2 linked regions of the Homo sapiens genome follow. The protein of the gene in region 1 interacts with the protein of each later gene in a pairwise test. Each region holds a gene or a part of one and is shown in the gene's direction. Other genes may lie near its edges.

Region 1 (5,578 bases):
TGGAAACATCACACTTGCAGTTTAAACTACCAGAACACATTATACCATTTGATATTGTGAATGGTAAACTTAGAAAAGGAGAAAATTTATTAAACGCTCTTTTTAAAAAGTCCTCTGCATTGTATAAAACATTAGGAATTTGGTAAGCTCATGTTTTTGTCTTTCAGTATCAAGCAAAGAAAGTAATGAATATGAATATTGAAACTGTATAATCAAAAGATGTAATACTTTTCTTAACCTATATTTGTAGGAACAGACACAAAGGTCTAAATTATGCCTTTCTTATATATATTTCTTTCTTATATTTATTCCAATACAGGTCTTAAATGAATTTCCATCCAGAAAGGAAAATGCATTATCTTTAGTTGTGCTATTTACAAATGATGATTTATTCAGTTCTGCAATCTGTAGCCTCAGATTTCATATTGTTCTTGCTGTGCATACTACTAATTGATTACTGTACAGTGATTATAATGAATATTCATGGACTGACTCATAAACAGTAACTGTTTTTGTTATTTTTCTGACTGTGGTTTTGGTCATAAATCCTTTATGCTACATCAGAGTGAAAGAAATAATACCCCATGAGGAGTCCTGTATACCTTTCCACCTGGCCTAACTTTATGCCTAAGGCACCTATATTAGGCCTTGATCTGGAATCTGCTACAGACCCAGTTATTTATCATGATACTTTGTATCTATGACACAAAGACAAATCATCATAGTGGTCACTGAGATGGAAGCACATTTTTGCTTCTATAGTGGACATTGCTGTTGATAGCCCATGCATTTTTCTTTTCATTAAAGTACTTTGGGAGATCCTGTAGCATAGGATTTGGGGGTCAAATAGATCCCGAGAATGAATATCAGCAATGTGGCTTATTAGCTGACTTAGTGATTCTTTGTGGAGTTGTGAAGAATAAATCATCTATGACAAGTCCCCAGCATAGGTCAGCTCGCAGGGAACAGTGGGGACCAGTAGTAAAGGCCATTCTGGCTTGAGTATTAAGGGGCAGGAGATTTCCTCTGAATATAAAGAGGAAATATGACCCTGTTCGTGTATGAAGACTATCCCACACTTATTTCTTGAGATACCAGTTTTTTATTTTTCCGTTGGTTCTTCCTTGTCCTATTAGTAGCCACAATAGGGAGATGGGGCAAGATTTGGCACTCGTATATATTTCTTCTGTAATCTTCCTTAGTTTGCTGGGATCCTGCTCCCTACGGGTTTACTCTCTAGACTCACTGCATAAGACGGAGGAATGATGAAGTAGAAAATACAGGCATATGGCAGGAGAACTTTCAAGGACTTTAATTTTGTGTCAAGTCTATAAAGACCTTTTCCTAATAGCTGTTGTGTTTGCTAAGACTTTCACTCTTTGTTTTTTGTTTTTTTTTTTTTGGTCTAACTGGGAAAGATGAATGTGAATCTACTATGTTTTAGGTTATATTCATTTTTACAATCTTTATATAACAAGATAAAACAAACTTCATGGATAGCATAGATGGCAAGAAACATGGCATAGTGAGTAGAGTGTTGATTTTACAGCACAATTTAAATCCTGGCTCTGACGTTTACTGGAGTTCTGGGTCGGCTAAAGTTTAACTAAAGATGCAGTTTCCTCTTGTAAAATGTTAGTATTAATACTAGTCTTACTAGTTTTGCATAGTTAGTAGTGTATATAATATATACTAACATATACTATATATGCATATGCACACATATATACACATACATATACACACACATACACACAAGCATGTGGTATATGTAGCATATGCCGGGGACATAGTAAATGCTAAAAAAAAAAGTTGCTTAAAATATGATTCATAGAACATGAAAATCACGATGTAATTATAATTAGGTATATTTTATGAACTCAAAATCACATTGCAACACGGAGCTAAAATACAAGGTCAAGCGCGGTGGCTCATGCCTGTAATCCTAGCATTCTGGGAGGCTGAGGCAGGCGGATTGCCTGAGCTCAGGAGTTTGAGACCAGCCTGGGCAACACAGTGAAACCCCATCTCTACTAAAATACAAAAAAAATTAGCTGGGTGTGGCCATGTGCCCTTGTAGTCCCAGCTACTCGGGAGGCTGAGGCAGGAGAATTGCTTGAACCCGGGAGGCGGAGGTTGCAGTGAGCCGAGATCGCACCATTGCACTCCAGCCTGGGCAACAGAGTGAGACTCCATCTCAAAAAAAATAAATAAATAAAAAAAAAGAAAGAAATACAAGGTATACTTGTATGTATTTATGTACATATGTATTATTAAGATTTATTCTACCTACTCCATTTTTGGAAGAAAAAATGACTGTTATTGTAAAAGTGATACTGTCTCAGTTTTTTAAAAAAGTTAAATGAAAAGGAAAGAAATAAAGAAAAAGTCATACCAAATGTCCCATCAAAATATAATCACCGTAAGCTAATTATGAACATCATTCTAGATTCCTCTCTAGAAATATATGCCAAAAGAAGAGTCGATAAAATGACTGATAGTTGCATATGGACAGGCAGAAATAATTTTCTAAAACTAGGATGATGATGATATGCTAATTTAAGTAAGAATAAGAAAATATAAGATTGTCAATGCGACAAAAGAAGAAATACATAAAATTTAATGAATTGCTAATAGATAAATGTTTCTTCTCAAAGATATTTATTCCTGAAGTTAATGGAAAAGATTAAGAAAAACTTTAAGATGTTGAATTACACTTATTTTACCAATTACAAATTTCCGTTTTATAAGTATTATTGACTTTCTCTAATGATAAATGAGAAGCATATTTTCACTTCTTCCCACCTCCTTGTTTCTTAGATCCTGGTTTACATTTCATTTCACTTATTATATTATACTTATTATATATTATAATTTATTATATTCATTATATTATAATTATGTTTGTGTTGTCAGGGTTGTTGATATTAATGTTAAATTATGTAATTTCATTTTAAACATTATTTTCCTATTTAAATGTTTATTATCTGTTTTGTTATCTGGTTTCCTTTACCTCTGAATTCCTTGATTTGATTGACTCTAATTACAGTTTATCATTTTTTTCCTAAAGTAGGTCCATGCACTCTATTCTTTGAATTTTATATACAATTGAGAGTATTTGTCTTTTACCTTTATCCTTGAAGGACAACTAACCAGATGCAGATTCTGTATTTTACTTTTTCTCTCAGAACATTATAGATATTGTGTGTGCTCTGTAAAATTCTAAGGCAAATTGATTTTCCCAAATTTCATGAATTGTTTACTTCTTTATCCTTGAAATTAAATTATTTTGCTAAGATATATTTGAATTTCTTGTCTAACTCTATATTTTGTCCTGCGTAACTGTGCCCCTGTTTATGACTTCAGTTAGGCCTGTGTTCTGGTGACATAATGTATATCTTCTGAAGTCTAAATCTGTACAGTTGATCCTTGAACAACACAGGTCAGGATTGCCTGGGTCCACTTGTATGTGGATTTTTTTCAATAAGTATTTGGAAAATTTTTGGAAATATATAACAATTTGAAAAAACTCTCAGATAAACTGCATAATCTAGAAATATAAAAAATCTAAGAAAAATATATGCCATGAATGCTTAAAATCTATGCAGGCACTAGTCTATTTATGGCTTAATAGACTATCTTTTTGCTAAGGCTTGCAGTCAACAGTAGACTATTAGTAGTTAAGTTTTGGGGGAGCAAAATTATATGCAGGTTTTCAGGGGCAGAGGGTGTCAGTACACCTAACCCCAGGTTGTTCAAGGGTCAGCTGTATTTTCGATTTTCTATTGGGTGTTTTCACCAAGATATCCCAAAATATCTCAAATTAAGTATGTCTAGAAACACATTTTTCTTCCTTCCATTTTCCCATCCGAGGTCCTCCGAGCTGACACATCTTTTTCTTATTCCCTCTCTCCATGGATAGCAGCACAACTTTACTTACCTGTACAAGGTGAAATTTGTATGGCAGCCTTGATTTCTCCCTCTTATAGTCAATGTTCAACTGTTGGTTGATTCTACTAAACTAATATTTCTTGAAGCCATCAGATTCTCACCATATAATAAAATATGCCTATTGCTTAATAATTTGTTAAATTTCCACAAAACTATTTTGAAGAAAGATTTAATCTCCAGTACCTGGCATAATGGGTGATGCATTTTGATGTTCAGTATTAATGGAATAAATAAAAATCACTTCCCAATCTGACATGACATAATGGGACATTATACAACAGCTTCTTATTTACCACCACACAAGAGCTTTTTAGTTTTATCTACATCTATATCTATCTGTCCAACTGTCCATCCATCCAACTATGTGTTTTAATTGTGATAAAAAAAACACACAACATAAAAGTTACCATATTAATCATTTTACATTGTAGACTTAAGTAGTGTTAAGTATATTCACATTGTCTTGCAACAGATCTCCAGAGCTTTTTCATCTTGCATAACAGAAACTATATTATACAACAGTTCCCCTTTTTCCTTTCTCTCCATCACTTGGTGAAGTGCCATTTTAGTTTCTGATTATATGAATTGAACTACTTTAGATGCCTCATATAAGTGGAATCATACAGAATTTGTCTTTTTATAACTGACTCATTTTACTAGCATAATGTCTTTAAGATTCATCCATGTTATAATTATATGTGACAAGATTTTCCTCCTTTTAAAGGCTGAATAATATTCCATTGTAGGTATATGCCATTTTGTTTGTCCATTCATTAGTTGATGGCCATTTGGATTGCTTGTACTTCTTTTATTGTGAGTAGTGCTGCAATGAACACGAGTGGGCAGATATCTCCTCAAAACCCTACTTTCAATTTTTCTGGATATGTACACAGAAGCAGGTTTGCTGGATCATATGGTAGTTCTAATTTTTTGAGGATCTCCCTACTAATAATAATAATTTGAAACAAAAAGTCCCTTTAATCTTCACAATAGTCCTATGGTATTAACACTTTTTATTATACTTATGTGAAGATTATGGTTTACATTAAGGTGAATTTCTAAAAATCACACAGCTTGGGACAAGAAACCATTTGGATTCTAAGGCCCTTGCTTTAAATCACTGGTTTCCAAATTCTAATGATAACGTAACTCATTTGCTAAAAAAGATTCCCCCAGTATATACACTTTTATAAACTACATCTATATAACACTCTACCAATACTTAACCCATTATAAACTATATTTAAAAGTACAAATATATTGGGCTGAGATTAAAATATATATAAATCCAAGTTTTAACATTTCCTTCTTCACCTCAATAGGTTATCTTATGCACTGCCTGAGTGTACACATACCAATTTGAATACCTTATTCTAATTTATAACACCATATTGCCTCTCAGAGAACATTGAATTTAAGACTTTACACTCAGCTAAAATACTTTCTGTCATCTTGTAATAAAATATTTTTATATGTAGAGGGAAACTAAGGAGGAATAATTGTTGACCTCTTAGTTATTAGTACATTCACAACTACAAAGATTTCCCATTGGAGAAATCCTACTAAAAACTCAAGTGGAGAATTCTATATGGAGTACTTATTTAAATATGGACCTTTTAAAAGTAAA
Region 2 (4,880 bases), on another chromosome or scaffold:
TGTGCCAGCTGGATGCTCAGGTAAGCAGACAGTTATAACCTGCCCAGGTAGTTCTAGGGATCAGAGTGGGCCCTACAGGAGCAGCAACTACATCTTTTCACCTCTAATTCCCCAGTGTCTGGCCTCAAAGGCAGTAATAATAAACCATACTATTTATTGGGTATCCATGTGCCAGGCTACAGTATCATGCACACATGCACACCTCATATCCCATTTGGCCCTGTCGCTTGATGAGATGAGCACCATCCCGCTTCTTCCCTGGTCTTTGTATTATGGAGCACAGACACGCCAGGTGGCTCAAAGTTGTGGAGCCAAGGCAACACCCCATCCTTCCCTCAGAGCAGAAACAGCAAGGCAGGAAAAAAGGCCCAGCCTCCCTAGGACTTTTTTTTGGTAGCACCTGACAGAGCCATCACTCAAAGTGATAAGTGAAAATGGGAATTTATGAGAAGCTACAGGAGTCTCTACCTGAAATGCATGCAGGACTCAGGGTGGCAGATCAGGACTGGTTTTTGTTAGTTCAACTGCAGTTAGTGGCAATTACAATTTTAAACAAGGTCTTAAAACTCGTATCATTACATTCAACATCCATTATCTTGTTTGATTTTCGGAAGGGCAAGAAATAATAAAATAATAGAAGCTAATGCTTTTATACCTCTTGCCATATGCCAGGCCTTATTCTAGAAACATTAAATCCTCGTAACAACTGTCTAAGGTAGGTTCTATTATTATCGTGTTCATGTTGGAGAGGAGGAGACTGAAGGGGAGAGATTAAGTAACGTGTAAAGGTACTACAGCTAGTTCATGGCATCTGAACTCACACAGCTATGCTGGAGCTATTATGGAAGCCACCATGCGGCTATTGGAGACTTGGAATGCTCCAGTCTGAATTGAGATCCGCTGCAAGTGTGAAATACATCACTGGGCTTCAAAGACTTAGTACTAACTTAAGAATGTAAAATGTCTCATTAATAATTTTTATGGTGATTACATGTTGAAATGATGATATTTGGGAAATCAAGGGCTAAATAGCATTGAAATTAATTTCACCTGTTTCTTTTTTACTTTTTTAATGTGACTACAAGACAAACTGACACATGTGACTTGCGTCATTTTCCTATTGGGCTGAGCTGCTCACACCCACTCCCCCACCGCTGTGGTCAGGCACGTGGAGACTGGCCCTGAGGATGCGATATGGGGATATGAACACCCTCAGCCGCCTTCTCTACCCCTCACATCTCGCACAGCTGCTGCATTCTTCTCTCCCATGGCAGTCCTTGGTCTCCACGTGGCAGAAAACAGCTGCAGACAATGCCAAAGCTTGATGGCTTTGTCTTCAGCCGCTCCAGAGCCTGACTCTTGCCCTTATTGTGCAGAGGAGGCAGCTGAGGCTCAGACGTGCAGCAGGCCAGGGCCCAGGGGGTGGGCTCCACTGCCCACCACGTTATACACCACATTTGTCATTTTGTAAAGGCTGGGCTTGTATATATTAGAAGGTATAATTCTTCAGCTTTAACATACAGGCTGATTTCCTGTGTGCTTTCAGGAATTCTTGCTGAGACAAACCCCTGGCTTCTGAGACCTTGTTAGATCATGATGTGTCCTTGGATCTCATTTTCTAGGCTGAACCAGAAATGAGGAGAGAGAAAATAGCAGATCAAATATTTTCTGAGGCATCCTGTCAAGTGGGCCCCAGGACTTTTAAGCCTCTGTATTTAGACTCTGGATTCTGGACAGTTTCCAAAAGGACACTGATCTTGAGATCTGGAGAGAGGGGACATTTCGTGAGTACTGTGAGGAGCGGCAGCCAGCCGCTTTTTCCTCCAAAGGATCTCTTTAGCTTTTCAGAGAAGCTGGAGAGGACTGTTTCCAATTTACTTCCTGGAATTCAGGGAGGGCGTGGAGTGTTTTTTATTATAGTATTCTATTCTCCCATCAAAGTGGATTTTCAGCAAGCTTCATCTGCAAGCAAACCTTGTCCCTTTTAACACCAAACACAGGGAGAATTGCCCTGCTGGGTGAGATTTGGGTGTCCTCCTCCACCAAGGATGAGGCCTCCCCTGAAACACTCCTGGGGCTCCCAGTGGGAGTTCAGGACTGTGATCCCTTAGTTCAATTGCAACTAGTAACAATTACAATTTTAAATACGACTCTAATTTTGTATCACGTTTTGTTTTCAAATCCACTATCTTATTTGATTCTCTGAATAACCCTGTAAGGCAGACTGGGCAAATGTTAATATCTCCATTTTACAGGTGAGGAAATGAAGGCCCAGATAAGATGAACTGACTTTCACAGTCACGCGATCAGTAAGTTACAAAACTAGGACTGGGACCCCAGTCTTCAGAATCCAAGCCCAGTCATTGCACTGGGTTTTCCTCAGTAGCCAAGTGAGGCTTTGTCATCCGCACGTTTATTGAGACCCTTGAGATCCCCTTGTTTTATAAATTATAATAATACCGGTGGGCTGGGGAGGTCCTCAAACGCCAGTGGGACCTCGACCCCAGCCAGTGTCCAGGCGCTTGACACCATCTCAAGAAGGAATTCAAGGATGAGTCAGAAAATTGTGAAAGTATGGTGATTTTTTGCAAGGGAAAACAGTACACACTCAGGAGAGGGGGCTGTGGGCATTCTCAAGAGAGAGTTGGGCAGAAGTGTTTGGGGTTTCTATCTTTATGGGTTTCTTTAACCAAGAGGTGGAATATTCATGAAAATTCCTGGAAAAAGGTGGAGATTTCCCGGAACTGTGGTGCCACTCATTTCTACACCAAATATGGGTGTTCTCGGAGCTGTCGTGGCACTGGTGGGTGTGTGATTGAGTACATGAATCAGCGTATAAAGAGGTCCTAGGTGAAACCTAGATCAAATCCATCAACATGTTGGGTCCAGTGGGTCTTAGCCAGCTTGGTCCACACCCTGTTTTTCAGGGTCTTATCGGTCTATATAGCCTCTAATCATGTCAAATTGCTGCCTGGGATTTTTCTCCTATGACCACCCTGGATTATTCCAGTCTCCGTAAGGGCGGCCAGTTCATTCAAGGTTATTCAACAGCTGCGTGTTGAGCACTTACTCTATGCAGTGCTGCGCTAGGCTCCAGCAGCCCAGCTGAGAGCAACATGCAGGGCCCATACGTTCCTGGACCTTCCATTCCAGGGAAAGAGCCAGAGAGTTAACAAGTCAAGAAACAAACAAATACATAATCACAAATTGGGCCAGGTGCCTTGAAAGAACAGGATGGGATAAGAGCATATGCAGGATGGGTGCAATGCTTTGGATCACGTGATCAGGGCAGGTCTCTCTGAGGAGATGATATGAGACCTGAGACTTGAAGGATGAGGCTGGCAGCTACCTGAGGGCTTCCCAGAGGAGGTTAAGGACTGGGGGCATTTTAGGCACAGTTCTTTCCAACCGTGGAGCGTTTACAGTGTCAAACACTGGGCTAAATAGAATCTTTGAATGCATTCCTTCACTCATTTCTCACACAAACTCCCTGAGGTAGGTATACTATTATTTTCATTGCATAGTTGAGGGAATCAAGTGCTGGGTGTTCCATGGCTCTTAACCACGGAGTTAAATGCCACTCCTATCTGTCAGTGTGTCAAAACCTGATAACCAACAGGCCAGATTTATTTGAGCATAATTTACATCTTCCAATCTGCAACGGGAGACTGTTCAGCACCCAGGCCTAGTAGGCTTGCTCAAGACAAGTATTCCTGGAGCTTCTACTACTAGCAGACACATTCAGGAAGGATCAATGAGAGGCCCACGTCCCCACTTTTGGCACCTCTCACATCACAGTCTGGGCAGAGGGCCCTTGGGAATAAACCAGAGGGCCATGTCCTGTGGGCCAGGAGGAAGACTTCCCTGACAGTAGACCCAGCCTGTGGCACTTTAGCTCCTAGCGCTTTTCTAGAACATGTGTATTGATGAATCATTAGCTACTTAACAGAGAGATGAGAAGCCCAGGGACTGGGCAGCTGAAAGCCAGACTTAAGAACTCATCCAAGTTCAGCCAGCTACAGTGGCTCACACCTGTAATCCCAGCACTTTGAGGCGAGGCAGGTGGATAACGAGGTCAGGAGTTCGAGACCAGCCTGGCCAGCATGATGAAACCCCGTCTCTACTAAAAATACAAAAAATTAGCCGGGCATGGTGGTGCGCACCTGTAGTCCCAGCTACTCAGGGGGCTGAGGCAGGAGAATTGCTTGAACCCAGCAGATGGAGGTTGCAGTGAGCTGAGATTGCGCCACTGCACTCCAGCCTGGCAGCAGAGCGAGACTCCATCTCAAAAAAAAAAAAAAAAAGAACTCATCCAAGTTTATCAACCCACAATTCCATTTCTGGGGTTTAACCAACTAATATTTTTTATCCCTTTAGTAGGAAGGCTCTAATGAAGGCTTCCATATTAAACTAACACCTTCCCACCCCCAGAAAGGACAATTTAGGAACTCAGATTGTTTTTTTACAGGTGAGAAAGGACTAATACTTACCTCTCTTCTGGTTAATTGGACAGCTCTCTATGGAGCACCTACTCTATCTAAGGCATTCTGCAAGGCTGGCCCCACCCTAGGGGCCAGAGAGGGAACAACCTAGCCCCTATACTGTAAGGGGTCAAAAGCAAGGAGGGATTTGATCTGATTCGGGTTAGAAAAGCAGAGGAAAAAAGAACAGATTTGTATCAAGGGGTGTCAGTGCTCTCTCTTCTGGATTTCAGCCACTGTCTGGTTTTCTCTTCGCTGTGGATTTTCTTGAGGGCAGAGTCTGCGTCTCCAACACTTACTAATTAAGCAAATATTTCTTGAACATTCACTGTGTGTGAGGAAGTTTGAAGCCAGGTGGCCAGCTGGGGTCCTGTACTCATGGAGCTTACATTTTAGTGG

The links. Proteins that work in one complex are often made in the same cells at the same time.
Region 2: the proteins of NOL4 (region 1) and C1QTNF2 interact in binary tests that used the Homo sapiens proteins (3 or more experiments, as listed by UniProt).

What each region holds. Positions count from the first base shown.
Region 1 is NC_000018.10:34,213,924-34,219,501, reverse strand, and holds part of NOL4 (nucleolar protein 4), read left to right. Parts: intron 1-5,578.
Region 2 is NC_000005.10:160,360,221-160,365,100, reverse strand, and holds part of C1QTNF2 (complement C1q tumor necrosis factor-related protein 2 isoform 1 precursor), read left to right. Parts: intron 1-4,880. UniProt on the Homo sapiens protein: Involved in the regulation of lipid metabolism in adipose tissue and liver.